4 separate regions of the Homo sapiens genome follow, and all the other regions are linked to region 1. The links come from fine-mapping of genetic effects on gene expression. A gene starts in region 1. Each other region holds a variant in brackets. All regions are shown on one strand. Distances are from middle to middle.

The links. PIP is the estimated chance that this variant, and not a neighbour inherited with it, causes the effect.
Region 2: its variant is fine-mapped to the expression of TMX4 in whole blood (TOPMed, PIP above 0.99).
Region 3: its variant is fine-mapped to the expression of TMX4 in whole blood (TOPMed, PIP above 0.99).
Region 4: its variant is fine-mapped to the expression of TMX4 in whole blood (TOPMed, PIP above 0.99).

Annotation. Positions count from the first base shown.
Region 1 is chr20:8,015,838-8,023,977 of GRCh38, forward strand. It overlaps TMX4 (thioredoxin related transmembrane protein 4), which reads right to left and starts at 3,924. Exons shown (of 8, transcript NM_021156.4): 1 at 3,601-3,924. The coding sequence starts at 3,776. TMX4-AS1 (TMX4 antisense RNA 1) reads left to right here and starts at 4,069. Exons shown (of 7, transcript NR_184034.1): 1 at 4,069-4,267; 2 at 4,554-5,424; 3 at 6,222-6,318; 4 at 6,544-6,612; 5 at 6,720-6,930; 6 at 7,434-7,615. RefSeq lists silencers at 3,435-3,574, 3,685-3,924.
Region 2 is chr20:7,975,625-7,983,764 of GRCh38, forward strand. TMX4 (thioredoxin related transmembrane protein 4) reads right to left here. Exons shown (of 8, transcript NM_021156.4): 8 at 1,722-6,997. The coding sequence ends at 6,627. Among named protein-coding and RNA genes, the nearest start is that of HAO1, 39 kb to the left of the region's middle. The variant G/A (reference allele first, on the strand shown) is at 3,203.
Region 3 is chr20:7,991,969-8,000,108 of GRCh38, forward strand. TMX4 (thioredoxin related transmembrane protein 4) reads right to left here. Exons shown (of 8, transcript NM_021156.4): 4 at 7,764-7,892; 5 at 4,058-4,103. Among named protein-coding and RNA genes, the nearest start is that of TMX4, 24 kb to the right of the region's middle. The variant C/T (reference allele first, on the strand shown) is at 3,555.
Region 4 is chr20:7,876,117-7,884,256 of GRCh38, forward strand. It overlaps HAO1 (hydroxyacid oxidase 1), which reads right to left. Exons shown (of 8, transcript NM_017545.3): 8 at 6,869-7,547. The coding sequence ends at 7,477. Among named protein-coding and RNA genes, the nearest start is that of HAO1, 60 kb to the right of the region's middle. The variant G/C (reference allele first, on the strand shown) is at 3,936.

The DNA of each region.
Region 1 (8,140 bases):
ATGATCATTCCAAAAACAAAAATAAGAAAAGGCAATAATTTATAAAGATTTATATGCTTTACAGAGGTAAACTAACCCAAAGACATACTTTTCTTCTGAGTATCAGCTTGAATGTCAAAATTAAGCCACTTGGCTATCTATTTCTTCTGGGGGAAAAAGCCACCAGAATGTATCATATTACATACTTCCATGTTTCAAAAGAACAAAAGTCATTTTCTCCAGGACTGACATAATGAGAGCCAAGCAAATGTTGAAAGTAGCAAAAGGTTGCAAAGGAACTGAATGAAGAATAGTATAAAACAATGGCAATAGAGAAAAGCATGCATCATACAGTAGTTTAAAGATTAGATCATTTTTCCTAATTCAGAAAAAGGGCAAACGAGTATACAATAAGCCCATAGCCGGGTGCCTGTATTCCCAGCTACTTGGGAGGCTGAGGCAGGAGAATTGCTTGAGCCCGGGAGGCAGAGGGTACACTGAGCTGAAATCGCACCACTGCGCTCCAGCCTGGGCGACAAAGTGAGACTCCATCTAAAAAATAATAATAACAACAATAAGCCCATAGCATTAAAGAAAATGTATGTAGCAATGGGAGAACTTTTCAGATTTCTAAAATCATCAGAATAGAAACGGTGAATTACTGCAAATATACTTTTAACTCATACATTTTTAAAACACTGGAAATTCAATTGCAAGAATCCAAAAAATTGACTGTTTGAAAGACTAAGAAAAAATAACCAAATTTAATTTCATAATAGAAGCTTTTCATGTCTCAGGGCTGCCAAATACTGCTAGATTCTTAAGAATAAATTATCTATACCAATATAACCAGAAACTGCATTAGAGGGGATCTGTATGACGTGGCGTATAAAAGAAAAAATTCCCAGATGAAAGAGCGCATATAAGCAAATGAACAAATAAAGAACTCTCATTCAAAGTAATGAATACATTTTGATATCGGAAAGCTTCTCAATCTGTGTCTTTAAAGAAGTTAACTACAACAAAAGCTTCTCAATCTGTTTCTTTAAAGAAGTTAACTACAACATCTTTGAACTACTAACAATTTCCATTTATGTATGACCAGCTCATCTGAACTAAGTGTCAAGATGAAGCTAATTTTAATGCATTTTGTTTTTCTCTGTTATATACATAAAAAAAAAAATCTGGTAACGTATAGGCTATTTAAATGAATTCTTAGAAATTCATAGCAGGCCTCTAGTGGTATGGAGGATATAATGAATTTTATATTTTTTTAAGTACTGGAGTTTTTTTCACAGCAAGGAGGAGGAGTATCACCTGATAATACAGAAAAAAATAGATCACAAATAGATAAGAACCAAAATATTTCTTCAGGATGAGCACTTGGGTTTTAGTGCGTATAAAGAAGTTGGATGGAATGGTTTGGATCAATTTTCATTGACAGCCTTGCTTCCTAGCCACCTATTCTGAAGTGCACTCGATAAAAAGAGAATGTCTACTAAAATGACCTTGTGTCTACACAGCTTACTTCCAGATTACAAGACTCATCTGGCATCACAGGCCAAGCATATTCCATACAACTGGACACATGACAAACTCAGAGCAATTGATTACTATGTTTAGGTTTATACATTCATAAAAAAGTAAAATTTGAACCATCAACATGGCCAAGCACAGATGTTGTTGGCTCTCCCTCAAAAACTTATTGAGGCTTTAGTGTTCTTAATTCTATTACCAAAAAAAAAGCAATTCCAAAAGGAACCATAGAGGAGTTGAAGTCATTAAAAATGAGGAGGCCTTTCTGTTTTAACTTTTCTTACATACATATGCAAACTCAGTTTTACCCTGAAAGATGACATCTAGGAAAAAGTCCATTTTGTAAGCACCTACTGAAAAGAGAACTTTCTGTAGTATTGGCTGACAAAATGCAGTTTATCCCAAACTCTTAAAATTATTACAAACATGGAAGTCTTAACACAGCTCCACTTATTTTAAAAGTTTCTCAAATAGAATATGACCCCCTCACCTTCTTCCAAAAATAGTTAAGTGGAATATTTTAATAATTCATGTCTACAGTTCCCTTTAATAATTTCATTGATTTATTATGATACCAAGGGTATTTCATTTGGAGGTCTAAAATATCCCCTTCTTTGTGACTAAGAGGTAAATGCACATTTGAAGGGGTGATATGCCTTATGTTCTTCGAGCAATGTAATCTGCTGTGTGACATAAATTTTGGCTCTGATCTCACACTGAGGTTTTCACTCCATAGGCACCTGCTTGCAATTTAAATTGAAAGAATCAAAACTTGGTCTTGGATAAAGGAAAGATCCAATTTTCTGTCTGTGTCCTCAACGTAAAACAAAGATTCAATAGTAGTATACAGATTGCCAGAAACCACAGGCTAAAGAGATGTGGCAATTTCCTGAAAGATTTTATGTTTGGGGGGTGGGGGCGGGAGGGGGGCAGGTAGGGTGGAAAGGAGTTGTGGGAGGGGAGAGAGAGACAGAGAGAGAGAGAGAGAGAGAGGAGGGAGAGAGAGAGAGAGAGAGGAGAGAGAGGAGAGAGAGAGAGAGGGAGGGAGGGAGGGAGAGAGAGAGAGAGAGAAGAGAGAGAGGAGAGAGAGAGAGAGGGGGAGGGAGGGAGGGAGGGAGGGAGGGAGGGGGAGAGAGAGAGAGAGAGAGAGAGAGAGAGAGAGAGAGAGAGAGAGAGTCTGCAAGCCCACCATGATGGTCTCTCAAGCCCGCTCAGACATCTGCCCACCATCCACTGCAAGCCTCTTTCAAATGGTCACTTCCTATTATAAGGTTAAACTATAATCAACAAATCCCTTTCTTTCTCCTAACTCAAAACTGTAGTTTCCCATCTCCTTAAAGAAAAGGCACTATCCACCATTTGCTTTCTATTGTTAAAAGGGGCAATGCGTATCTTCTTTTCTTTATGGCACAATTATTAATATTACTCAGAAAGTCCTACCTTTACAAGTTATAATAAGTATCAACATTTATTTGAAATCATACTGTAAAATTTAAAAGGCATCCATATTTATGTTTTATTCTCACAATGACATCTCCAGGTCTTCAAACGGAAGACTACGACACAAATGGCCTGCCTTCACCGTGCTGCAATTTCTTCAACAGGTAACTTGCTTAGCCTGTGCTACGTATTCATACTGCACGTGGATGTCACTGAATGTCCTTTCTCTTCCAATACATATCTGTATCTAAAAGCACACGGTTTGCTTGCAGATTTTCTTCCTTCCCTTCTCCTCCCTATGGGAAGCTGCCCACTCCACCCCGAAAACACTGTCCCCCAAAGCAAGGGGACGCGCTGCACCCTCGGCTGTCACCGCGAGGGCTCGGCGCGCATGCGCGGCGCGAGCGGCCGGGCCCCACAGCCGCAGGTCGTTGGTAAGGCGGGTCCGCGGACCCCAGGTCGAGCCCAGCGGCAGTGCAGGATCGCAAGCGGCCCGGCACCGGCGCCGCAGGTTGTTGGCAAGCCTGGTCCGGGGTTTTAGGTTGAGCCCAAGCGGCAATGCGGGATCGCCACCGGGCCGCGCGGGCTTGGGAGGGTGACGCCCGCGAGGACACTGCGGCGTCCGGGGCGGGCGGGCACACTCACAATTTCAGCATCCACTCGCCCTCCATCACCAGCGTCCAGTTGGAGGCGGTCATGGGCTGGACCCGGCTCTGCTCCGGCGGCAGCGCGGCCTCCTCGGGGCCTGCCGTCGCCGCCACAGCCGCGATCCAGGCGGCCAGGAGCGCCGTTAGCTGCGGGCCGCAGCGCCCACCCGCCATGTTGGGCGCCGAGCGAGGCTTCTCGGCGGGGAGTGTGGGGAAGGGCAGCGGCCGGCCCGCAGCCTCGCTCGCCCGCCGGGTTTTTCAAGGAAGCGGGAGACGCAAGGGCCACCCCGCCTACGCCTAGCGGCGCAGACTGGCGGTGCTCGCAATGCCGCGGAGGACGCCACCTCTTATCGCCGCTTGCCCGTCGAGGCCACGCCCCCTCCCGCCTCCACTTGCCGTTGCCCGGGGTGTCGGTTACCTCAGCAACCACCGCCCTTTCTTCCTGACCGCCAAGCTGACAATAAACAGATGACCCAACGTTGCCTAAGTTAGAACATGCACCGCTGCTGCCCAGGCTCCAATAAGGGCAGGGTTGGCGCGTGTGGGCTTCTCTAAAGGGAAACATGGCCAGTAATTTTAAAATCCATCCCCTCTTCAATGATAGCAAATATAAAAGCAACGGGCTGCAAGGTACACGTATGTTTAATGAAAAATGGAGGGACGTGGTGAGTATCTCCTGCTGAAGAGAGAGGAAAATTTAAGTACTCTGCATGTGTATATTGAAGCATCACTAATTTAGGATATTGATGAAACTAGCCTATGCAATTGCATTTTTTTTACAAAAAATGTTAATTTCATAGAAACTCTTAAAAACATGGGTACTAGCCGATAAAATGAGTCAATTAAGACTATTGCCACCTGCAGTAAAATGGACCTCACATTTCTCTTGACTACAGTTTTGTCAGATCTAAAATGAGGGTAGCCTTAAGTGATTTCCAAATTTCTTTCCAGGTCACATTAGATGAATCTGTACCTTGGGACCACCACACCGTTAATATATAAGACTGGATTACAATTAAAGGATGAGGAAGCTTTCTCAAAGGGTGCTTTGTATGTGTTTACTAGTTGTGCAAACCATGAACCTCGGTAATGTGGTTAATAGACCATGAAAAGGATGTGGTTTCTGCCCTCGGCTTAAAACAAAGACAGCAATAAGACTAAAAGTACTTCAGGGCACATGAGAGCAAATTTCAATCAATACTTATAGGAGAGGGAAGTTAATTTTGCCTGAAGAGAAGATCTGGCCTGCATTATGCATTAATTAGTATTAGCTAAAAACTATGTGGACCTAGCCCTTATCATTAAAATAAAACACTCAAGGGTTTACAAACTATTGAAATTTAAGAAAATGTCTTTGCAATGAATGCTACTAAGACTCACTGTTATTAAGTACATACATATCAATTCCATAAACTCAATGGAAAACATTTTACTGTGCTTGTAAAAAGAAGTGACTCATAAACAGGAATTCTGTCATTTTATCACTTTCATGATAGAATGATGTGTAGAATTTGTTTTACAATGCTCCAGAAATAAAATGTAGGGAATGGAAAGAAGATAGGTGAAAGAAAAGTGGTGCAACATCAGTCAGTGTTGAAGCTAAGTTCATTTTGCTACTTTACCTACTCATGCATATGTTGGAAAATTTACAAAATGAAAAGCTAAAAGGAGAGAGAGCATCTTCAGCATGAAAGACAGCCATTACCAAAGCATTTCCTATCTTTAACAAAAACTGAAGTCTTAGCCTTCAGACTAAGGATGGTAGGAAGAAAGTAGCAAGGAAGTATGGGACTGACCTTGCCGTAAGGAGTCACAGACCAGGGTAAGGGACCTGTTGCTGTCAGACCATGATTGGCATCTTAGCCCTGACACTTCCTAGCCATGTGATTTGGGGCTAAAACTAGTCCACACCAAAGTTCTCTTAAAATGCGGGTAGTAATAGAACCTGCTCCAAAAGGTGGCTGTGAAGATTATATGAGATAAGAATAATGCCTAGCACATATTCTAACTCAAAAAGCTTACATATTAGGTTGGTGCAAACATAATTGTGGTTTTTGCCACAATATTGCCAACACTAATATTATTATTTGGAGGCAACAATACGCTGTAATGTCTATTTTTCTTATACTAAAGTTAACTTCACTTAGCATGATACACAATGCCTCTCACAGCCCAGCTTCAGTTTTGCCCACTTTACATTCCACTATTCCCAGAGTTCCCTGTGTCCTAGTAACACAAAGCTACTCCCCATTCCCAAAGCACATTGTGTACTTCAGTGTCTCCTTGCTCCTTCATTCTGATTAGAACACTCTTCTCCAGTTGTCCAGTGAATCATTCAGTCTCTGTCATGTAGTCCACACTGTACCTCTGATAGCTCATGCAGAATGAGCTGCTGTCTCTTCTCAGATCCAATTGCTCTTCTGTATAACTGATATGGTTTGGCTCTGTGTCCCCATCCAAATCACATTTTGTAGCTCCCCTAATTCCCACGTGTTGTGGGAGGGACCCCATGGGAGATAATTGAATCATGGGGGCGGGTCTTTCCCATGTTGTTCTCGTGATAGTGAATAAGTCTCATGAGATCTGATGGTTTTAAAAATGGTAATTTCCCTGCACAAGCTGTCTCTCTTTTGGCCTGCTGCCATCCGCGTAAGACATGACTTACTCCTCCGTGCCTTCCACCATGATTGTGAGGCTTCCCCAGCCATGAGGAACTGTGAGTTGAATAAACACTTTTTCCTGTATAAATTACCCCGTCTCGGGTATGTCTTTATCAGCAGCGTGAAAATGGACTAATACAATAACTTCACCACATACCTTTCATAGTATAATGCATTTATATGTAGCTATCACCCTCTACCCTCACTCCTCCAACCACTACTAAAAACTCTTCAAGGTCAAGGGCTTTACCTTATATATCTTTGTGTCCCCTGTATTGCAGAATACCCATCCCATAGATGTACTTGGGATAGACAGCTTCTGGCACTCCTCCCAAGATCTCTCCCTCCTGGTATTCAGGCCCTTGTGTGATCCTTTCCTCTTGAGTGTGGGTTGGGCCTGGTGACCCACTTCTAACAGAAGATGGGAAAACTGATGGATTATCACTTCTTTGTTAAGGTTACAAAAACCTGAGACTTCCATTTTGCTGGAAACTTCTTTTCCTCTTGCACACTCACTCTGCGACTCTGTGTGGAGAGCTCCATGTGACAAGGGAGGTCTGCAGCCTAAGCAACTGAGACCTCAGCCCAACAGCCCTCAAAGAACTGGATCTTCAAACAACCACATGAGTGACCTAGAAGCAAATCTGTCACCAGTGCTCTTGAGACGGGTGAGCCTTATAAATGACCCAGAACCAGGGGGCAAAGCTTAGCTTAGCTGGGACCTCCACCCACGGAAACTGTGAGGTAATCAATGTTGTTACATAATATCAAGCCACTAAGATTTGGGGCAATTTGTTATGCTGTAATGCTATGCTAGGTCAGTGTGTGATCCATGTTTATGTTTAAAACGTGGATTTACAGGTTTAAGAAGATTGGTACCTGGTACTAGGAGAAAAGGCTTTTTCCCCCAGAGTGATGGTGGCACTGCAGGGCAGCTATGATTACACAAAAATATGTGGTTCCTAGTAGGCAAAGGAATTCCTAGGCCTCTGATGAGGTAACATCATTAGCAGGAGAGAGGGGAAGAAGAGTGTGGTAGATCCTATCTAGTCCCCCTCTCTTTCCCTGCCCCACAGAGGAGGATGCTCCTACACCCCTCAGAAGTTAGTCATATTTATATGAATTGGCCAATGGGCTACAAATGGAAGGGGTGGGTATGTATCATTTCCAGGCTGAAGTATTTAATCACCGGCACAAAATGTCCCAGTGTTCTGTTCTCCTGCTGTGGAAATTTTAGAGAAAAGATCATGATCTAAGAGTCTACAAGACCAGAGCAGCCTGAATTGCTGAGCTGCCTGGTGGAGAATAGCAGCATTGGGTGGTTCCCAGGATTCTTAAAAGGACTTTACAAAGGTAAGAAATACGTTTTCACTATGAGAGATTATTCAGGTTAACTATTTCTGCCTAATCAACCATCCCAAAACTCACCTCTCATGGTTTTGGGGGTTCAAGAGCTCAGCTGGGCTATATTTGCTTGTACTCTTTTATATGGTGGCAGACCCCTGGAGGCCGAGGCCAGAATTAGTTGAAGTCCCTTGCACCCACATCTGGCACTTAGTGTAGGCTGGCTGGAACAGCTGGGGACTGCACAGGCATTGCTCTTATCCACGCAGTCTCTCCATGTGGCTGGCTTCGGCTTCCTTCAGCATGGCAGTTTGAGGGCTGTCATACTTAATTTCTCTAGAGCAAGAGTTCCCAGAAGGTGGAAACTGCATTGCTCTAGAAGTCTAAGAGTGTCGTTTCTACCTCATTCTATTAGTCAAGGCACTGAAGACACACCAGACTGAAGGGGAGAGGAATTAGACTATCCTTTAATAAGAAGCAGCAAAATAAATTGCAGCCATACTATCAAAAAGCCACTCTGAAAATTTGGAATTG
Region 2 (8,140 bases), 40 kb before region 1:
TACCATCTACACCCTCAACCTAGGTCAGGTTCCTTTTTATAAACTCATATAGCATTTGTTAACTTTTTCACTTGTAACTCTTTTCCTGCTAATATTCACCTTCCCAAGTAAAATACAAACTCCATGAAATGACAATTCTCAGTTTGAAAACTCTGGTACCTTGAAGAGCCACAGTGGTCAAGTCCAGCAGGAAGACCTCCAGCACTGGGGCCATATGTACTCTGCCCTCTCCTGCCATATGTGCATTCATACTATGTCCCAGGAGCTTACTCTATAGAAGGTCCTAGGCTCACAAAGGTGGGCAAGAAAAAGTCACTGTGGCAAGAGATTGCTAGCTCTCAAGTTCCCTTTGTTCTTAAGCACACAGCAAGATTACACATCCTAGTCTTCCTTTAAGTTAGGTATGACCCTGTGACTAAGTCCTCTCACAGGAAATGTGAACATAAATGATGCACGTGTGGCAGCCTCGCTTTAAAATCTCTCAGCAATGTTCCTCCATCTCTTACTCCTCTGACTGACTGGGATGGAAATGATCACAGCCACCTTAGCAGCCACGTTTTTTTGGTTGTTTGTTTTGAGATGGAGTCTCGCACTGTTGCCAAGGCTGGAGTGCAAAGGCATGATCTCGGCTCACTGTAATCTCTGCCTCCCGAGTTCAATTAATTCTCCTGCCTCAGCCTCCTGAGTAGCTGGGATTATACGCACCTGCCATTACGCCTGGCTTATTTTTGTATTTTTAGTAGAGACAGGGTTTCGCCATGTTACTAAGGCTGGTCTCAAACTCTTGATCTCAGGTGATCCACCTCCCTCGGCCTCCCAAAGTGCTGGGATTACAGGCGTGAGCCACCATGCCCGGCCCAGCAGCCACATGTTAAACAGCAAAGCCTCCCTTGACCTTGAGGCCCAGAAAAACCTGCATGGGACAGAGCCTGCCTGGGATGCCTGGCCTGGGCTATGTGAATCAGTAATACAATTCTTGTTCTTAAAGCCCCCGAGATTTGCGGGTCTGTTAGCACAGGCTGGACTGTCGTAATACAGTTATCAATCTCAAGAAGCTCACATGTTCCAAGAAAGAATTTCTATTACTGTGAAATATGTTCCAAAGAGCATTCAAGACTAGAGCAAAGCAGGGGGTTAAATTTGTAATTCAGTGTTGTTGGCTTGAAAGCTGCATTTTGCTATAGGCAAGGATGAATAACCAAAGTCATCTAGGCAGACAGCACGACAGACATTTTTCTCTGTATAGGCAAATAAGCATTCTGAGCCAGTATCTCTGAGGGAGGGCCTTGGTGGTATGCAGGTTTAGTAACTGTCTTCTCACTACACACATCCCCCACCATCTTCCAAAAGACAAAAATCCAATCTCCATTGTTTCAGTCTCTGAGGGTGTTTCAAGGACCCACCTTACCACCTTGATGCTTTTCCACTATAGTGGTGGGGAGAGTTAGGTGTAGAAGGGAGTTTTCTGAAAGCCCCAAAGACAAGACCAATCCACAGTGTCTTGGGGGATTAGTAGCATCCCTTGCCATCTGGCTACCCCAAGACCTCAGGACAGAGGGAGACCCCAGAGGTTTCTGATGGCAACACACTGGCTGGAAGAGCCTTGGATCTTTGGACCCTGCCTTGGTTTTGTGCACTTTCCAGAGCAACTAAAGGGCACATGGTCTGAGTTTCACCGAGTCAGGAAGGGAGAAAGAGAGAGAATGAATGAACAGACTAGATGGAGGATGGACACGAAGGAAAATTTTTTTTAACAAATTAATATTTTTTGCTGCCTAGGCAAATGGCTTTTGTGAAAACACTTGTATGAAAAGCAATACACCATTTGTTTTTACTTACCAATCACTATCATTAGGTTTTGATGCAAATGGGAATTTACAATAAAATGAAACAAATAGGATCAGGGATTATATACAATACTGTGATCAAGTGATTTGTGATTCAGGCAATGTACTACTTGAAACACATATCTGGATTTCTCATTCCAATTGCTGCAGATGCTATTTGAGGAAGCAAAGAATACAGAAAGAAAAATAATTAGGTTCATTAGGCTAAGACTAATACCAGTAATATAAACAACAAATTTATAACATATTGCATTGCAAATAAGCAATGTTTTTAGTATAAAAATTGCATTTCCACAAAGAAGCTAATAACAAATACGATTAAACCACTTCAGAAACACGTCAAAGTTGTACGAGTCACACATATACAGTGTCACAGTCTACATAAAGCTTTACTGAGAATAAGCCATCTGAAGGGCATGTCCCGGGCTGAAGCGATCAAAGGGCTTTTCAACTGAAGTTCTTACTTCCAGAAAGCTGTTCAAAAAGCTGCCCCATCAGGTTCAGCAGGCTTGATGACTCCAAATTTGGCTTTTTAAGACAAGCTAAAATCTCCTCCAGAGAATCAAAATGTAGGACTGAGGTAAAGAGATATTAAACAAGAAGGAACTTTTCTGTTGGCATAAGAGATTTGAATGAATTCTTTCGAAAATGTTGGTACATTTGACAGGATGGGTCAACCACATATTCATAATACTGACAGAAATAACACTGTAACACCAAGATGAGGGACACAGATAACCTATTGATACGAGCAACAGAACCAGCCTCCCTCTTCTTTCTCTCACTTCATACTAAAGATTTTATGCTGAAATCTCAGGTTTGCCGTAACTTTTCCACCTTTTTTTAAAATTTATTTTTCTCTGGACTTCTAATGTTTCCATCCTATGAAACAACATACCAGCTCCACTACTGATGCATTTGGTAATAAAAAGTCACATGGTAAGTATTTGCCTTAAAAATGACTTTTATCGTCTACCCCAAAGGTGTTTTTACAGGATGCAGGTTCTGTAGACTGACATATTCCCAAATCATATTAGAACATCACAGCTGTCAACAAGGAATTTTGGCCATAAAAAGTCAAATTTTGTTTTTTTTCCACTATCAAAAGCCAACTCAGCTGAAGCTTATCTATTTTCTACTACAGTAGTTATTTTGAATGTATAGAGCTAAAGAGGCCTGTGGCTAACAGACAGGGATTCCATGCACAAGAGCTTTTAAGTATGTGCCCATGCAGTGCAAGGCCCTGTGAACCCAACAGGCCCTGTCCCTCATCCCATCCAATGACTATACTTCAAAGGGAAAGAAAGATGTGGATTGCCTGTATGTTGCTTCAATATGAGATCTCTGAGCAAGCT[G/A]GGTTGGTTTAGCAGATCTAGCAAGAGACAAATAATAAGAGAAACCAACATAAAGGTAATCAGAAGTTTCAAACTTTCCTTCTAATTGATGAAAAGATACCCTGCTCCAACTCCCCAAACATAAAGCACTGCACATTCCCATTCCAAAACCAGTTACCTGCATTGCATTCACCTAATTTTAATTTACATAAAATACCATTCTGTGACTAAATAACTGATACTGCAATAGAGGGAAGCATGATTTTAATTTTTTTTTTTTTTAGATTTTAAAAATCAAAATCATGTTTCCATGCACTTGAGTTCCGGATCAAATATATTATCTACAGAAAAAATCCACAAACTCTTATCGAAATGTTCATATAAAGTTTAAATTATTTCAGGTTGGCTTTTCTCCTTTAGTTTTATATTCATTAAGTATTGAAAACAAACCTAAAATCTTCAAGTGGAAAGATATTAAATTAAATTTTGTTGGAAAAAAACCCATCTTTGCCATGATGTTAAAAAAGGGAAAATCAGGAAAAATGGTTCCCACAGATATTTAAAGTTTTAATGGGTCCTCTTCTCCAAGATGTTTTTCTCCTCACCCTTCAATTTTTTTTAAAAGTATTTCTGAGAAAGAAAGTACATTTTCTGCCAGGTACGGTGGCTCACACCTGTAATCCCAGCACGTTGGGAGGCTGAGGCGGGCGGATCACCTGAGGTCAGGAGTTCAAGACCAGTCTGACCAACATGGCGAAACCCCGTCTCTACTAAAAATACAAAATTAGCCAGGCATGGTGGCACATGCCTGTAATCCCAGCTACCTGGGAGGCTGAGGCAGGAGAATCCCTTGAACTAGGGAGGCGGAGGTTGTAGTAAGCCAAGATTGTGCCATTGCAGCCTGGGCGACAACAAGAGTGAAACTCCATCTCAAAAAAAAAAAAAAAAGAAAATACATTTTTCTTATTATATAATTAGATATAGGTCAAATATCCCTTATCCAAAATGTGTGGGACCAGAAGTGTTTCAAATGTTTTTGGATTTGGGGATTTTTGTATATATATAATGAGGTATCTTGGGAGTAGACCCAAGTCTAAACACAAAATTCATTTGTTTTATATACACCTTATACAACATAGCTTGAAGGTAATTTTATCCAATATTTTTAATAATCTTGGGCATGGAACAAAGTTTTGATTGCACTGTAACTGCCACCTGTCAAATGAGGTCAGGTGTAAAATTTTCCACTTCTGACGGAATGCTGGAACTCAAAGTTTAAGATTTTGGAGCATTTGGGGTTTTGGATTGTTGGAACGGAATGTTCAACCTGTACTATTTGGGGTCCGGTTGGAAATTGGCTTTACATTTTTAAAAGCCAGTGTAGACTGTATTTCTGCCTTACCTTCTCTCTAGTCAAATACTCCACTAAAAAAATGAATATTTCAGTTTGAGAGGGAGGAATTATATAGAAAAGCCAAACTATGAAACCATTCTTATTCCATAATACCTCTGAACCTGAGTTTACTGTTCTTTGAGAACTCTGTTTCAGCTGATTATAAGAGAAAGAAATCCAGTGACACGAGGGCAGGCAGGCCCCGCTCTGCTCTGATCGAGAAAAGCTTCCTGATGTCAGGGAGATGGAACTGCCACCATCAGAACCATGGCACTTTGGGTGAAGGTGTGTCAGCGACCAAGGGGGCAGGAAATGGGCAGTGACTAAGGGGGCAGGAAACAGGCAGGCACATGGCAAGGTTCTCCCAGCCCATCAGCCCAGTGATGGCCTCGATTTTGAAGCTGCACTACTGTCTGAAAAGCACAATTACTGGTGACTCTTAACAAACTTCAGCATACTGGGGAAGGAGACTGTCAAGTAACTGAATTGGAAAGATGAAAAAGAACCATCTCTAAAAGTTGATGCTGTCAGAAGAATAACCTCCTTTGTGCAAGTCTTGCAACATCTTCATTCAACCACAGGAGGGCAGAGAGTTTCAGAACCTCCCCCACCAGTGAGCTCCGTGCTCACAATTAATACAAGGAAAGGGTTATCTAAACAGCCAGATAGAAATATACTGCACGTTCCTTTTTAAAGACGACAGAAACTTTTAGAATTTCATAAACCTGTACTCATTATTCTGTCTGGATCTAAGGAGCATAGAATCAACTTTAGGCATCTTTCGTATGCTTGGAATCGAATTTCATGAATTTATTCTAACACATAAATCAGGTAAGAGAGAAGTAGATGGATAGATTTTTTTTTTTTAAGGAAATTAGCCTCCCTGGGTACTTACAGTAGATTGAGTATTGAGAGATTTACAAAGATATAATTCTTTGGAAGATTACAGAAGATGGAAACAAAATCAAATCTTTCACTTTCAGGTACTGGAGTTCATTAATTCTTTCACCAAAAGCACATCACTGAAGGAAAATCAGAAGTGGTTTTTTAGTTATTATTAAAGTAGTTCAAGACCCAGGGAACCCCTTGAGATGAAAACAAAACAGTATTCAACTTTTCTTCACAAGACTACCTTGTACTGGCAAGACTTAGAGGACTTCTGGCTTGAAAAATATTGCTTAGAAAACTTAAAAAAAAATCAACAACAACTATATTTTGGACAAAACAATTTTTTTTTAATCTGTCTTGTAAAATCCTTACTTCCTTTTGAGTCTCTGATGGCCACAACATTTCATTTGAGATGTTTGGCAGTCACAGCTTCAGGGGTTATGGTTACTGATTATCTAAACCCCTTAGGTCAGAATGAACAAACACAGTTCATGTAAACCTGGCTGTTATTGGAGTCCTCTGACCAAGAGATAATAGTGAAGAGTGTGGAGAGCCTGAATGCCCATGGTGGAAATGCTGGAAAAATTAAAGGTAAGAAATAAAACATAGCACAGGAGATTCAGAGGGCTGGGATGACTTCTGAGCTGCTCTCTATACCCAAGGCCCTTTCAATTTCTAGCTGTGAAAGATTTTTCATGCACTGTGGTGCCTGATGTTTCCTGCAATTTGACAAAAATAAATACTTTACACAAGAAAAGGATGCAAGGCTTCTACGTTACACTTTGGGGATGCTCAGGAGCCAAGGCTCCTGCTTGGCTTTCATTTCACAGGGCCTGCAGCCTTGTCTCTGGAAGGTGCTGATTAGGACTGGGAATGGCCTCCTCTGGTCGAGACTCTCTGACCCCTAAGTAAATGAACTTGTTCCCATCCCAGTCTCCAAACAGATCCCAACACTACGTTTGTTTTTCTATATCCTGATTGTCACACCTGGAAGACTCTCCTTAGTATACATGAGGCTTACTGCCATGAGACCAAATGACTAGAGAGCATCTTTTAAGAGAAGCTTGCTCATTCAGGAAAAATTAAGGATTTGGTACAAACTGCAGGCCAAAGGGAAGCTGACATATTGTTTTGGTGTGTATTCTTGAAAACGCATCATTAAATCTACAGTCCCTTGTCAGCATGCTGACTTTTACGCTGCCTCAAGGAGTCTTCCACCACCTCTGTGTCAGCTGGGCAGGGTTGCTCAGAGATGCCTTCTTCAGCCTCCTCAGGCTCTACTTCCTCCCGGGTCACACCGTCCTCTCCTGGGGGCCCCTGATCATTGGCCTCACTTCTCTCCTCATCCACACCAGCAGCCAAGTTGTCCTCCTCCTCTTCTTCCTCTGCTTCATCCTCATCGCCAAGATCTTCTTTCTCTTCTTCATCATCTACAAGGCTGTCTTTGTTTTCTTCTTCATTTGAATCATCTTTTTCCTCCTCCGCATCCTGCAACTGTTCAGCTCTATGAGCCTCCTCTGATCTCCGATTCTGCTCTATGGAGGGAAGAAAGAGGAATATCCTCTGAATAAACAATGGTAATTCGGTAATCAATTGAGTGTGTTTAGCTGTGAAATAAAAATAGAGGGTAAGTGACAGTTTTTTCTATCTTGAAACTATGGTCATATAGGACAGATTCTCTGGTTGGCATCCTAGCCCCATTTAGGGCTTCTCCACCTGTCTCTGGAGATTTCATGGACCATAATGACTTCAGCAGGGCATGTGGGCAGCAAGGGCAAAGGGTCCTTTACGCTCGGTATTTTGTGTCTTGTAGAAAGCTCAGTGACCCTATTGGTCATGGTGATTGGTTCAGAAATGTGACATGCTAAGCCACTCAAAGTACTCCACAGAGGTTCTGGGCCAGAGTCAGGAGAAACAGCCTCTTTTTCTTCAGGGATTTTTAAACAGAGAAAATGCGCAAGGACTATCAACAGCTCTTATGAATAAGCCACACAGACAGAGAAACCTAACATCACTTGGGCCGTGCTTGAAGCTAGAATGTCCCTGGGCTTTTCAGTTATGTGAGCTAATAAATTTTCATTTGTTTTCCTAAAATCCTTGATATTGGGTTTCTATTACTTTTAAGAAATCTAAGAATCATATTTTCAAATTATCAATGGAAGTCTCAAAGCCTCAAAAACTTCAAGAACTAAAAAGAAACATGAGCTTATTTAAACTCCCACATAAAATTCAACAATTAGAAAGTCTCATGAACATCTTTATGCAGTCTCAAAAATAGTCTGGAATAAAGACATGCAAATCCAGAGGCACCTGGCCCCAGAAGAAGTGTGGAGCAGTGCAAGGATTTGGGAAGACTGCTTTTAAAGGACTTAGAAGAGTTACTAGCACACAGCAGAAGCAATATATATTGAGTTTCCCTTCTTCCCTTCTAGTTCTAGTTAGAATAAAGGAAAATATGACACTGATTAATGAAGAGCACATACTTAAAAAGAAAAAGCAATTGCCAAAATGAAATATTTCCTAATTTAAGAAAGGGAGAAAAATAATTTTGTTCAAATCTACCTAGAAAACACATTTTAAGAAATTTGGTAGTGATTATTTGGTCACCTAGTAAATCACAGAGAAAACCCACTATCTATATGAGCACAAAAAGGCACATCACAGAATTCCAAAAACAC
Region 3 (8,140 bases), 24 kb before region 1:
CTCTCTCCACACATGTGCCACACACAAAACCCAAGAACTTCTAATCCTAACTATGCCACCAGACTTGGCAGTGATGCTTCCTGAAGTTCAATCTTCTGCACATTGCTTTTATGATATTCACCTCACCTTGTACTATCCATTAGAGTATTAACATTTTTCATTTAGTCACTAAGTTGCATACAATTTTAAAGAAATTGGATATTGCTACTATAATATAAAATCAAAATCAATTTTGTCCTTTGAAGATGTCAACTCTCTGAGAAACTCCTCTAACTGTCCCATCTCCTAGGCCTCAGTGACTCCATCTGTGAGATGGGTAAAATGTTGAGACTATTTGTGAGGATAGATATTAACAGCTAATGAGGTAATTACTTCTGTGAGTTTATATAAAAATTAAAATATGCAGGTGAGCGCCATCATGAGTGAATTGGAAAGAAAATTTAAATTTAGTGATGGAAAGAACACTGGAGATCATCTACTCTTGTCCATATTGTGGTATGAATGACATATCGAGGATCCCTGGGATTCAGGGTAACAGCAGGAAGCTGACAGGAACTGCCTCATAAGACTATTCAAGGGACTTTCTCACCTCAACAGTTTACTCAAGCAAGAACATAGGGGAGGTTGGTATGAAGTTAAGAAGGCCAAATGCAAACCAAACCAACTCCTGAGTTGATAGGAATTCGGCCATGTGAGTGTCTCATCACCAGGTGATCCTAGAATCTTGAGGACCAGCTTTTATCTCCAGAATGTGCAACCTAGCAAGTTGGCTTCACTTCTAAGGCAGAAAGAAACCCAAGCCCCTTAAGGAATCACTAATTCAGTAGGCGCTGATCTTCTAGATATATCTCTGATCTTCTAGATATCTTCTAGATAATTACTAGCTCAATAGGCTCTGATCTAAATATATTGTTTTCATTTTTTCATTACAGAAGAAAATAGAAGTTATAGAAAAAACGTTTTTAAAAATCACCCATATCAGAGAAAACTACTGTTGATCTCTAAGCATTTTCCTATATACACACAAAAACGCCATATAAACATCCATTATACTGTTTTGTCATCTTCCCTGCAGATATACTTACATCTAACCAGCTACCCATCCAGGGAAGACTGTTGCTGAGGAAAGACTGATTTCTATCTGTACATGTATCCAGATATTTCAGTAAGATAAAGAGACTATGGATAGGCATAAACAATCTTGTCTCACTGGCATTAGCCATTCTACGTCTTTCCTTCTTCCATCTTTATAATCTTCTTTCTCTGAGACTTTACACTTTTTTGGTTCCACCTTCCATCCCTAGTCTATTTCTGTCTCACCATGTACAGTTGTTTCTTCTGTTCATTATTAATATATTTGCATTGTAGTTTCATATGATCTAGACATGAGTTAAAAAACAAATACGTTTGCCACAATTATACATTCAACATGGATTTGAGGAACTCTGACTAAAGGAAGAGTCAGCTAAATGAGCTAACTGAGCAGGCAGGGCAGTCAGCTGGAAGGACTCGCTGAGTAAGTGGCTCTATAAAGACAGGAAGGCAAGACCATAACTAAAGGTGGGAGTGGGGACCAGAGACCTGATGGGTAGCCAAGGACTGGGTCTCTTTAGGTCAGAGATGGTGTGCCTTATAAATCAGAGGACAAGGGCCACATTCTAGAAACACAGGTGGCAAGAGACCTACCTACAGATCTGATGAAAGGATGGGGACTTATTTCTAAGAATAAATCACAAAAGTTGGCAAGAGGCTTGGGGAGGCTACATGCTGATATGGAGGGCAGTATCAGATTTCACAAATTATTAAGGTAATGCACACACACACACACACACGGAGATCAAAATAACACTGTATCATTTGCGTTCTTTTATGTGCAACTCTCTTCCATTCCCCTACATACACACACCCTACAATCAGGACAAATGTTTTAGTGATCCCAATAAATATAAATGGATTAAATTCATCAGTTAAAAGAATTATATCTTGCTATATACTTTTTATAAGATTTATTTAAAACATAATCAAAAGGTTGAAAATAGAAAAATTACTCCATGCAAATGCTTATAAAAAAGAAAACACATGGTATTAATACTAGATAAAACTATTTTACAATTATACATTTATATAATTGTACATTTTGCATTCTACATTTTACAATTATAAAATGTAATTACTTGTGTGCCAAATTTTAGTTTATCTTATAAAATGATCATTTTTGGTTCCTTTTGGAAATATCTGGAAATTATAAATATACATTTATATAACATATATATTCTACTTCTCAATCATTAAGAAAAACATATTCATTAGTTATTCAGACATGGATCACATTCTGTTCTCCAAACGGCTCTTTCTCTCCAGTTTAATGCATCCACACAGAATACATCTGTGTTGCCCATAGCTGGGCACTGTGTGTACAAAGATAAAACACCCACTCCTGGCCTTGACACACTCTAAATGTTACACATTGTAATCATCTGCATGACATAATGAAAAACTGTAACTCCTTATTTAAACTTGTTTGTCTAAGCTCCAAATTACAAGCTATATGAGGTCAGGGCCATTATGTATCTTCCCTGCTATCGTCTTTGAAAGTAAAACTTCTCTTTTACAGTCAATGAAGGCCATAATCAGCTTCCATCTAAGCTCTTCTTAACCTGCAGAACAAATTCTATTGCACTTATCATAGGTTTGGTGCTAAAATTTCACAGTCAATGCTGCCTGACAACCATCTACTCCAATTTTTCTGTTGAATTAGACAGTATAATGCTACACGGCTCAAACAGCCATCAGGCTACATGATTTTGTCAGTCTTTAATATCAACATACTGCAAAAGGCAGAATCTCTTTTCAATTCCCAGTTTGCAATTCATAATTCTTAGCCCTTGATTAAAGTTCTCACCAATGTTAAGAAAGCAGCAGAAGGAAACCACATGAAATTCAAACTATCTGGAGAGGGGGAAATATTAGTTATTGTTTATTGTGAGACAAATGCCAAAAAAAGTTAAATTTTAACCTGAAAGACTGAAACCAAGTCTTCAATTCGCCTCTGTTGTAAAAAATAAACAACCAAAAAACCTTGTGGTAGGTATTCTATCTCACAAGGCAGAATATAAATGGAACTGAGAAAGTGGAATACAAAAGGTTTTTCTTAAATGTCTTTCAACATATATGAATGTGTATGAGAAACAGAAAAAGAGTCTTCACAAACTCTTTGAATATTATGTTCCAAACATGACACCATAACCTACAATCATAGCATAGAAAAGACATATATAGGGAGACTCGCTTCTAAGACTTTTTGAAATATTTTGAGCTATATTTAATTCCAGAGCCATTTTGTTCAATCTGGTTGGATTTAGTCCTCCCCTACAGAGAAGGGAAATAAAAGGTTATGGGACATACTCAACATTATATAATGGTTCAAAAATTAAACCTGAATAACAGTTCTAACCCACTGAAATGACTCAGAGAAATTATACGATCACATATAGCAGGGGTCTACTACTTAAAGGCCAGATTGTAAATATTACAGGCTTGTGAACCACAATTCT[C/T]TGTGTCTGTCACAACTATTCAACTGTACCATTGTAGCATGAAAGCAGTCATAGACAATAGGTAATGAATAAATGTAGCTGTCTTCCAGTAAAATTTTATTTACAAAAACAGGTAGCCCATCCACAGGCTAGAGTTTGTTAATCCCTGACATACAGAACTACTTTCAGTCTTAGACAATCTTTCCTTTGTAGGGAGATATGCCTACAAAGAAATACATAAGATAAAGTAAAATCACATAAGCCGTTTTGCTTGGATGAAAGACTTCACCACTGATTTAAGAAAATAAGACCTCGACACAGTAGTTACAGGTTACTGTTCAGATTATGCCCTTCTACATGACGACATTACCACTGGAAACCCCACATGAGAGTAGTTGCATGGCTTAAGAAAAAAAGTGAAATTATAAATGTACTTATAAATGTTTGTTTTCCTATTGCTTAAAAGCTGTATTTTTATTCTTAACCTCTCTGCAAATATAAACGTTTTATTTAAGATTACTTACCCATATCTTGCCAGAGATGCTAAAAAGACCAGCCATTCCAGACATCCTTAAAAAAAAATAAAGAGAAGAAACAGTGATCATATATACTATAAAAAAAAAATGAAAATCAGGTCAGGAGGACTGGTCTATTTCCCTCCACTTCTTGCTAAATATTGCCCCCTCTCCCAGATTCATATCTGTTCTTACAGAGCTTAGATTCAGTGGCTATCATTTGAATCACTCTGCTGTAAATCTATTCCAACTCCTTGGCCCTTTCTCCTTTCATTGTGCCTACCCGGCAAAAATCTCAACACTGAGCAGCTGAATGTCTCCAGGGAAAAAACATCACATAACCAGATGACAGTTCTTTCTGCTTCATAGTCCCAAACCTAAGTGGACACGTAATACTGTCCAGCACTTTCTAAGCTCTAAGAAAATAGCTCATTTCCTTTTCCTTCTCTTCAAAACGTACACATCTTCCCATCCCCATGTACTCAGCTAACAAGCACTCCTCATATGTCACTGTGAAATCAGAAGCCACCATGTGCTTTCTCTCATCTTCCCACTACCAAATCTGAGCCTGGTGTCCACCTGCATCCACCTTCTCTTGTTATGACAGGAAAAGTCTAACTCTCTTATCACAGTCCAATTCCTCCACTTGTGCCTTGGATCCTATCCATTTTGTCTTATTAGGACTTGGTTCTTTCTCTCATCCTCCCTTCCTGCACGAGCAACTTCTCTCTCTCTCCTAGAACAGTCTCACTGGCATATGAACATGCTCTACTCTCTTTTACCCTTTAAAAAGAGTATCCCTGGACCTCACATGACCCTCCAGCTTCACAGATAAATTTCTCCAGATTACTCTACACATGCTGTTTCTTCTCTACTGTACCTTTAATCGATTAAAATCTGGCTTCCACCCTCACCACTACAGGAACAGATTGTCAAGGCCATGATGACCTCACCATGTTTCATTCAATGTCCATGTCTCAGACCTGATCTCCCTTCGCCTCTTAGTAACATGGGATACAAGAGACTACGCCCTTCTTCTTGAACACTCATTTGGCTTCTGGAAAATGGCAGACCTTGGTTTTCATGTTGCCTCTCTGGTACTCATTTTCAGTTTCCTTTGGCTGACTTCTCAACACAGTTTCTTAATTTGGGGGTGGCCCATGACTCATCCCCAAGTACTCTTCTCTTTTTCCTTCTTTCTAGGTGTTCCCCTCACCTCAACATTGTCTGTAGGTTTTTTTGTGTTCCTGAATTCTTCATGGGGACCCATTTCCATGCATCTGATATGCTTTGAATCTGTATCCCCACCCAAATCGTATGTTCAATTTGTGAGATATGATAAGGTTTCCCTTCAAATAGCCTAATCAATCTTTTAATTCAGAGTTAACCACCCCCTCTTTTTTTCCTTTTTCCTTTCTGCCTTTGTTAAATGCGCAGGCATGCCACAATACCAGCCATTATCAGTACCAACTCACATTCCTTTCCTTATTTAAAAAAAAAAAAACAACTTTCTGACTCACTACAGACACCCTTTCCCCTTTCCTCTTTCTTCTATGTGCCCACCTTATCTAAAAAAATTCAAATGTTTAGCCAACTAAAATTAGTTTATACACCTGACCCCAGCCAATAAAAAAAGGATACAGGGGCAAGACTTGCGTCAAAAATAAAGGCTCTCGTACTCCTTTGTTCAAGTGTGCTCTCATGGCGACTGGCCAAAAAGGCACCTCTCTGCGCAAAAATAAAATTGCTTTGCTAAATATCCTTTGTTCAAGTGTTCAATTTCTTAAAATTGTAAGCATTATTCCTAACAAATTGTAATCCCTAATGCTGGAGGTGGGGTCTGGTGGAAAGAGAGTGGATCATGGGGGCGGATTCTCATGAATAGTTTAGCACCATCCACTTGGTGCTATTCTCTTGATAATGAGTGATCTCTCAGGAGATTTGGTTGTTTAACAGTGTGTGGCACCTCCATCCTTCTCTCTTGCTCCTACTCTGGCCATGTGATGTTATGTGCTTCCCCTTCGCCTTCCACCATGATTATAAGTTTCCTGAAGCCTCCCCAGAAGCCAAGCAGATGCCAGCATCATCCTTCCTGTACAGCCTGTAGAACCATGAGCCAATTAAACATCTTTTCTTTATAAATTACCCAGTCTCAAGTATTCCTTTATAGCAATGCAAGAATGGACTAATACAGCATCCACTGTGACAGTTCTACAAAGTCTGCATCTCAAACCCAACAAGATTTATACAGAATCCTTAATTTTCTCTTGCCCAAGGCAATAACAAGTACCAAGATCCATCATGTACTCAAACCAGAAACTTGTAAGTTTTTATTAATGAATCCTTCTTCTCCTTCACCTTGGCCAAGCCTACCTTCATAACATATTTAAAATCCACTCAGCCTCTCCATCCCCACATCCCCACTGCTGCCACCTGACACAAGCTACCACTCTAAGCCTCAACTCACTTCATCCATTCTTGCCCTCTCCAATCTCCTCTCCTAAGGGTCACCTTCTCCTTGTGTGTGCTGATCACTTCCAACTTCTTTCCTGTGGCCACAGGCCCTGCATGACCTGGCTTCAGCCTGCCCCTCTTACTCAGCTCATCCTACATTCCCTTTCACTATGCTTGACCCTGGTCACCATTCTGCTCCTTAAGTACACCAAGCTCCTTTCCAAACTGGGGCTTATGCATATGCCATACCCATTCCTGGGAATAATCTTCCCTCTGCTCTTTGCCTAAGCTAGTTCCTTCTATCATTCAGATCTCACCTAGAGGCGTCCCTTCAGAGAAATGTCTCCTACTCCCTCCATCTAGAAGAGCAGGTCCATAACCCCAGAGCTATCCCATCTTTGTAAAATATGTTGTTGTGTTTTTTATCCACCCTCATCCCAACTATGATTCTCTGTACCTGAGGTGAATGTCTGTCTTGTTCAGTGTTGAATACCTAGCACCTAGGAAAGTATCTGGCTAAATCAGTGCTCAAATGGTTGTAGAATGAAATGTGAGAGTTGTTTTTAGAGTAAGCTATGTGTTTCCTTAATATTAATATAGATGCCACTAGATGATTTACTCCTGAAATATTGCTTGATTTGCTCCTTTTTCAGTAGGGAAATTTCTTACACTTGTATATACTAACATAAAATTATCTATATATATGACAATCCATTCAAAACTAAAACCAACTGTGGAAAAAGCTGTTATGGTTTGGCCTAATCTACCTCACCAAGTATTATACAGTTTGCCGTCAAGGCCAAAGCTATCCCCTGTGGTATTTTGCGAGGCAGCCAAAGACTCCACAGGTTTTGTTTTCCACATAATATATAATAGCAATTCCTTCATAAACTATAATTCAATAAACAGTTATTCCTCTGTCTCATCAATAACTTAAAAGGAAGAAAGAATGGTAAATGATGTTCAATACCATATTTTGTAAAGAGAAAAATAGTCATTGTGGCTTAGTGTAAAAGCTGGAAAAGAGGCGTTCTGTAACCCACTCAAATCTGGCTACTTAATTCCCAGTATACTAAAAACCAGCTGAAACATATGTAGGTCACAAAATCAGAAATACTGCATGGGCTAAGCATGGCCATGAGTAATCTGGGTAATTGGAAGTAAATGTGAAGTAAAACATAGGCTTTTTTGAGACCCACAGGCTATTAACTTAAAACCTCCTGTTTTATTAGTAACACCTTGTCTTAAAAAATTGAGTTACGTTAGAGAAGCCGGGGATTTCCAGCCAGTCAGAGGCTCGACTGATTGCCATTTCTTCTCTAAGATATAATTCTGCAGGTCTTCGAAGATTCCTGGGCCACGATAACGGCGGAATATCCCATCCTTTGCACTATAAATTATGAAAACAAGTAGAAAGCAAATGCATTAAAATAACGATGTTACAGATAATAAAAATTAAAATAGCTACTGGTGATACATCTGAACGCCATCTGAACTTTAAATTGACTCAATTGAAAAATATACATAGAGATAAATCAGAAAGAGTTAATAAGCTTTACTATAAGTGAGAAATTCAAACCTAAAAGCGTTAACATTCTATGTTATCACCGTACAAAGTGTGACTAAAAGCAGAGTTCT
Region 4 (8,140 bases), 140 kb before region 1:
TATTCATAACATCTAGATCTGTGCTATTCAATACACACCCACTAGGCACATATGACTACTTAAATTTAAATTAATTAAAATTAAATAAAATGAAGCATTGAAACTAGACACATTTCAAGCACCCAATAGCCACATGTGGCTGATGGCTACTATATTGGAAGTGCGGGTAACATTTTCATCATCACAGCACATTCACCAGATAGCACTGGTCTGGATAACAAAAACCTCTAAGGAAGTTTGTTGTCAAAGAAAAAATGTTCAATAATTTATAATATAATAACCATTGCTATTAATGTCATTATAATGTGTTTGGTAAGGATCACATAGAAAAGTAGAGAACAATGTTGTAAGAATATATGTTAATAATTGATATGAGACTTATGCTGGTTGTTTTTTGTATATTCAAATTTAAAATAAAATACAGTGGGTTAGGCATAGCTGTGCTTCACAATTGTAAGCCATGTGACATTTAGCTTTAACTTAGCTTAAGTCATTGAAATTCAAAGACAAAGAAATAATTTTTTAGACATTGGGTTTGGAAAGTGGATGTGGGGAGATTATGTTAAAACATCACGAGCAAAAGAGTAAGCCAGTTTTTATTTCTTCACATAAAATTCAATGCCAGAAAGCAATCCAAAATGTCTACAAACAGAAAATGTGACCCCAAAGTAGTATACCTATCCATGGTGTCATTCAAATACAAGAACATCAAGTAGATTTTTAAACATGCACAAACTTAAAGAATACCAGCTATTTTTGAAATTACAGTTGGCCAGTGAAATCTAGGGAACCAGGAGGTGAATCAAAGGTAAGAACCAGAGAATGGAGAAGCTATGACAATTATAAGTACCGAGCCCATTTAAATGAAAACCAGTATTAAACAATTTTGGAAATCAATGATAGAGAAGACAATGATTTATACTTTGATAATTTAAAAATTATATATATACATACATATATATATATATATATATTTTTTTTTTTTTTTTTGAGATGGAGTCTGGCTCTGTCACCCAGGCTGGAGTGCAGTGGTGTGATCTCTGCTCACTGCAAGCTCCGCCTCCCGGGTTCATGCCATTCTCCTGCCTCAGCCTCCGCAGTAGCTAGGACTACAGGCGCCTGCCACAACGCCCAGTTAATTTTTTGTATTTTTAGTAGAGACGGAGTTTCACTGTGTTAGTCAGGATGATCTCGATCTTCTGACCTCGTGATCCACCCGCCTCAGCCTCCCAAAGTGCTAGGATTACAGGCGTGAGCCACTGCGCCTGGCCCTAAAAAGCGGGTGCAGTGGCTTATGCCTGTAATCTCAGCACTTTAGGAGGCCGAGGTGGGGGGGGATCACCTGAAGTTAGGAGTTCAAGACCAGCCTGGCCAACATGGTAAAACCCCATCTCTACTAAAAATACAAAAATTAGCCAGATGTGGTGGCACATGAGTGCAATCCCAGCTACTCAGGAGGCTGAGGCAGGAGAATCACATGAACTCAGGAGGCAGAAGTTACAGTGAGCCAAGATCACACCACTGTACTCCAGCCTGGATGACAGAGTGAGACTTCATCTCAAAAAAAGGATATATACATATATCCTTTTATATCCATATATATATATATGTACACACACTAAAGGGGAAGAGAAGAGGAAAAAAGGAGAGTAGATGTAAGAGACTACTTCATTTTTTATAGCAATGAGTTAACTGGTGCTAAAATTAAAGAAAGTGTATGCCATAAATCAAAAATTACTTTAATCTTTTAAGTTTTCATAATTTTCCAAATACATTGTGTAGGCACTTTTAATCTACGATATATCTTTTTGAAAAAAAATTACCTTAATTTTAAATGTTTCCAACTTTACTTTTCCTTCTACAAATTCAAGTAAAAATAAATTGAATCTCTTACTCAAATATAACATGTATTGTATAGTCCTATTTTAGTAAAGCTGTAACCATCCAACAGGTTCATTTTGCCCACTGCACAGATAGAGCCAAATTTTCAAGCCACAAATTGGCAATACAGAAAGAGTTTAATACATGTAGAGCCATCTAAACAGGAGACCAGAGCTTTATTATTACTCAAATCAACTTCCTTGAAAATCCAAAGGTGAGGATTTTTCAAAGGTAGTTTGGCTGGCTAGGGAATGGGTAATGCTGACTGGCTAAGGATGTAATCATAGGAGTTTGGAAAATGGTCCTTGCGCACTGAGTCTGCTTCTGGGTGGGGGCCACAGGACCAGCTGCGTCAAGAGTCATGGATCAGTGTGGGGCCGCCCAGTCCTCAGAAATGCCAAAGACTGAAAAGACATCTCAAAAGGCCAATCTTAGGGTACACAATGGTGATGTTATCTGCAGGAGTAATTGGGGAAGTTCCAAATTTTGTGACCCCTGGAATAAAGGCTGATCATCCTTTAGGCCTACATCTTAACAGAATTTAGGCTCCTCTCATCCTCCTTAGCTTTACAAGGGCTGTTTAGTTTTTAAGAAGGGCTGTTATTATTTAAACTATAAACTAAATATCTCCCAATGTTAGCTTGGCCCAAGCCCAGGAATGACCATGGAGAGTTCAGAGGTCAAAGGTAAGATGGAAGTTGATTAGATCAGGTCTTTTTCACTGTCATAATTTTCTCATTGTTATAATTTTTGCAAAGGTGGCTTCAAAACCACTTCTATCTATCCAGTTGCTACTGATTATTCAAACACAGCAAAGTCTGAGATGATATTCACCCAATATAAATAACATTTATCTCTCTGTGGTAAAATCTGTGGTGATGTTTATTTTACTCTGTAAAATATTCAACTTTTCTCTAAATAAATACTATAAAATAAAATACTTATTAGAATGTCTTTTATTCTCTTTCCTGATAATAATCATTATTAAACTATTAATATAAAATAATATTTTCCTTTGACTGTTGATTTACAGTTCATGATAAATTCTCACCTATTTCACCATGCTGTGTTCATAATGACCCAGAGAGGTAGACAGATGCTGCCGCCCTCATTTCTCAGCTGAGCATCTGAGGGTCCTCAGATTACATAACAGTTCACCCAGCTAATCATTCAGATCTTCAGGATTCTAACTCAGTGCTTTTGAGCAGGTTAGTCTTGATCTTCATTAAGTTTAGTAAGAAAGCTCGAACATACCATGTAAAGAATCTTACCATGAAAGACTCTATCAATATGAAGATTCCACTGTTAGAAACAGACTCAGGATGTTGACTGTAATGGAAAATAAATCAGCGTTAAAGACAGATGATCTAACCAGAAAAGATACATAGGAAACCAAGCAAGGTTCTTTTCCCCTGTGATGCTGAATCAAAGGAACAAACAAAATCAAGCCTATCACTCACTTGAATTCCAGCTCTTCTTTTGGCATCATTCAGGGTAACACAATTCTTAATTTTTAGAAGGTCCTGGAAAACTTTCAATAGAACTTATACTCATTATCTAAGATCAGAAAAATGTCAGTGGAAAAGCAAACAGATAACTGGATTTAAAAATAAAAAAGTATCTTTTTCTTTCCTCCAACAATGGGCAAGTACATTAGGGAGGAAAGAAGACACCTATTGCTCAAGTTTGATTTGGGTAAGAACAGGAAATTGCATCTTTTAGAATAGATGAGATTTCCCATCACATAAACATATAATAATAGCCTCCTATCATTTGAGCTAACATTTACATTACCTAAAATAAACTGTCATCCTGATGTTGTTCTATAATTGGCATGTGACAGAATGCACGCTGAGGCAAATATAAGTTCGGAAAGCATCCTGTCTTTATGTTAAAAGAAATCTTCGGACTTTCCTAAACGGACAAACTTTATTTTGTTGCTATGCAACTGACATGGAACATAGTCCATCAGACAGTAAATAAGTTATGAATTTTACAATGAAGAGAAAAGTCTTTTCTCTCTGTTTGAGAACAAGCCACAACTTCCTTTCATG[G/C]TTTCCTAATCCACCACAGCCCTCTAAAGCTGTTTCACAAACGCCAATGTTTTGGCAAGATAAACAAGCAAATGAATAACACAGCAATGACCCAAATGCAGTCTGCAAACATCACGCTAAGAGGCATCAATACTATTCAATTCATTCCTACAGGCCTGGGAACCTGGGCTCCCCAAGCCTCGTAAAGAGAAGAAGGTTTGTTTCACACCCACATTCTTCCAGGTAGCTGAATATAAATAAGCTTAAACAAAGGAGATTCTGGCAATTTCTGTTGGCAGGCACCCATCACTGCTACAGGTCTCAGGCATTATTCTGTATCAGGGCATAAGAGTGATTTCAGCCATGAGGAAAACATCTGTGAGGATAAAATGTTTTAGGGTTCAGACTTGTGGCTTGTGGGCCACATCCATGTTTAACATGACCTGCTCAGTGTTCAAAATGTTAAATATCGTCCAATATTTAAAATTTTTTACATAAAAATCTGAATGTCTTGCATTTCTTGAAAAATTATAAAATAACACTGAATTTGCATTTTTGCAAAAATCATTTAGAATCAACTTCCAGCAGAAAACTGGAAAAAAACCCAATAGGATAAGAGATAGATAAATTGTGGTACATTCCTACAATGGATTACTACAGAGCAATAATCAGAACTAACTTCTGATACACTCAAAAACATGAATGGACTTCACATATGTTAAGCAAAAGAAACTAAACACAAAAGTGCACACTGTATGGTCCCACTTATGTGAAGTGTAAGGCCAGTGAAAACCAATCAATGGCAATGGAAATCGGCATAGGTTTATCTCTGGTAGAAGGAGTATGTTTGGAGATGATGAAAATGTTCTGTATTTTTATCTGGGAGGTAGGCATATAGGTGTAAATGTAAAGTGTAGCCACCGATACACTCAGGTTTCAGCACCTTACACACCTCGCTGTATGAATTTCATATGTCAATAAGAAATACAATTCAATGGAAAAGGTATCAATTGGCTAAGGAACAGCTGGCCTTTTAAGGTGAGGCTTGGCCTCTCTGCCTGGAGCCCACACCCAATAGCTGGCTCACATAGATGGCTGCAACAGAATCCATGGTGTGGGGCCCAGCAATCTGTTTCAGCGAGCCCTGCCATTGATTCTGATGCACTATCAAAGCTTGAGAAACTGCTCTAGAGCACTATATCCACAAAATAACATACACAAAAGGCAGAGGCGGCCGTAATGAAGCCCTGTTACCCCTCCCGCCAACATATTTCAAGAAACTTAGGAAGAGAGGCGTTTGTTGGCTTCCTCAAAGAAATCTGTCTATCAAGCCTAAGTTTCAAAACTCTTGGAAGGGATTGTACAACTAACACACACCATTCCTCTTTTAACCATTACACACTTTTGATTTCAGTACTGTTACAATTGGGTCCATATCACTCATTAAAAAAAAGTAAAAGCAAACAGCTGTATATCTTTGATTATGAAAAAATTATCAAACAAAAAGCATTCAGATATATTCCAACTCTGAAAAAATAAATGAAAATCTACATTCAAGGAGTTATTGTGGCTCAGGGAATCTTAAAAATTATGAGAAACTCACGAATTAAGACCAGTAATCCCCATTCTCACTGTTACTTGCATAAACCTTACATAAAACACCACTTGGAGATCTCTATTTTCTGGGAAGTTATCAACTTTTAAGCAAGCGCCCACACAACCACACACTGTGATGTAGTCAAAATGGAAATTCTGTGCCAACAGAGAAGGCATTTTGAATCTGTTGAGGGAATTAGAGGTGCTTACTATATACTTATTCATTGATCAATATTAATTGGAAAAGCATAAAACAATTATATGATATGATAGAAATATTTACTCTGCGTATTTTGAGAAAAAGTTAAGGGATAACTTTTCTTTTTCATAAAGTTAAGTGATTATTTTTTACCAGACTGGTATATAATTTCAGAAAAAAGTTTTTTGTGTGTTCATGCTAATATTTAGGAATCTCCTAGCATTTAGAAGGAGAAAGGGAGAGAGAAAGAGTTCTGGGAATAATAAAGCATAATAATAATAAAACATAATATAATAATCATATTTTCAGGTAGTGATTCTCTGAATTGTTTCATTAAGTACCTCACAGTGGTTGAACAACCAGAGAGATGACGAAAAATCAACTTCAAAATTACTTTGGCTACCTAGTTCACCTCCAATTTGTAAAATGCTTGGTTTGGGAATGAATATAAAAGTCACGTGATCAGGGCTTCATGGGCATGCTCCTCATGCAGTGGACAGGGCTCCATGCTCAGAAAGGGGACTTGGGCTTAGGGTTTGATGCTCTGTGGTTATTGGCTTGAAATACTTAATAATGTTATCATTGAATTTGTTTTATAAGTGATGCACGATGCAACAATGGAACTTGTGCCGGGGACACTGAGAGCCTAGCATCATACATTGTTCCATCTCCTGCCACCTCCCCATGTCTGCTAAGTGAGTTCTTGGTTGCTGGCTCAGGCATTCTGCTTAGTATTTTTGCCCTGCACCCCCAGCAGGGTTCTGGGCATGGGCACAGGTAAGATCAAGGCAAGTTGTAAGGCAATACCCCAGGCACCTGGAAGGCTCTACGCTTGCCATGTGGGTATCCCCATGCCCAAGGAAGCATGACATGAAACAGCAAGTCTCCATGACAGCTTAAGAGAAAAACTGTGGAAGGAAGGAAAAGGGTTTTGTCTTGCTTTTTGAACAAGGGGCCCATATTTTAATTTGGCATAGTCCTCACACATTATGTAGCTACCCTTGCACATGGTTATCAATGGTAAAGAATCAAAAGAGTAAAGAAAGAGAAGTAGGAGGTATAGGATAACCAATAAGGTATGCAGAAAGGAAACGAGGAGGTAATTAAGGTTCAGAAAATAAAATTAAAATTTCATATTGTTACAAAAGGACTAGATATATTCTTCCCAAAAATGCTTTATTTCTCTCTAAGAAGTAACATACATCCTAAAACATTTGGATATATTCAGACACTAAAGATGTGATTGGAAATCTACATTCAAAGAAGTATCACCAATTACCGCCACCCATTCCAATTCTCTCCAGTGCTACCTTCTCAAAGTTGTGAATCAGGCATTACCAACACTTTGAACCTGAGCTTACAATTTAAGAACCACTGTTTTAAAGACATGTAAACAGAATACAGGTTAATAAACAATGAGATCATTATCTTTTCACCTTAGTGTTTGCTACCTCCAATTTTACTAAAGGATACAGCACTTTAGCCTGCCAGGGGATGACGTTGTCTAAACACATTTTCAATGTTTTCTTTTTAACAGTTAATATATTTCCAGGATGAAAGTCCATTTCTTTCTAAAAGGTTCCTAGGACACCCATTGAAAAGTCAAAAGCAATGAAATAAAAGGGATTGCTATTTTGTTGGAAAAGAACGACACCCTTTGTATTGAAGTGGGGAATTACAGACTGTGGTCACCCTCTGCACAGTGTCTCTTTGTCAAGTAATACATGCTGAAAAAAAATAATACAGATGGGAAAATATTGTGCACTGTCAGATCTTGGAAACGGCCAAAGGATTTTTCCTCACCAATGTCTTGTCGATGACTTTCACATTCTGGCACCCTGAAAAAATAATGCATACATTTAATATGAACTGAATGCAATAATAATCAGGCAGGTAATCGTTTTCCCAAGGAATGTAAAATTTGACAAATGTAAGGTTTATGATTCAAGGTAGGCTTGCCAAATCTTATGTGGCATGAGACCATTTTTTATTACCTAAACAGTCCTTAACACAAAATGACTGGCACATATTTTTATTAACACAAAGAGTATATTCTTTCTGCCACATTTAATAGAGAGTCAGTGACTGAAAGCTCTCTTTTAGGATATGTCTGTAGCAAATTAAAATGCATAGTGAGGATTCACAGAATGGCATTCTTCTTGTTGAGGCTCTGTCTGCAGACTGAGTACAGTAGTGAGTAGACCATTTATCTGGGGAGTTTTATCTATGGGAACAATCCAGATGATATGGATTACAGAAAAGGAAGCCCTCTTTACCTTCAAAAATGCGGTAGCTGATAATCAACTCACAGCCATTCTTTCTAGCTACAGGTTCTTTCTGAGTCAAATTAGAAATAGTCACTAGTAGTATTTTAATGTGTATTTATTTATTTATTCTTTCAGCAAATATGTATTGTTTGTGTGCCAGGCAC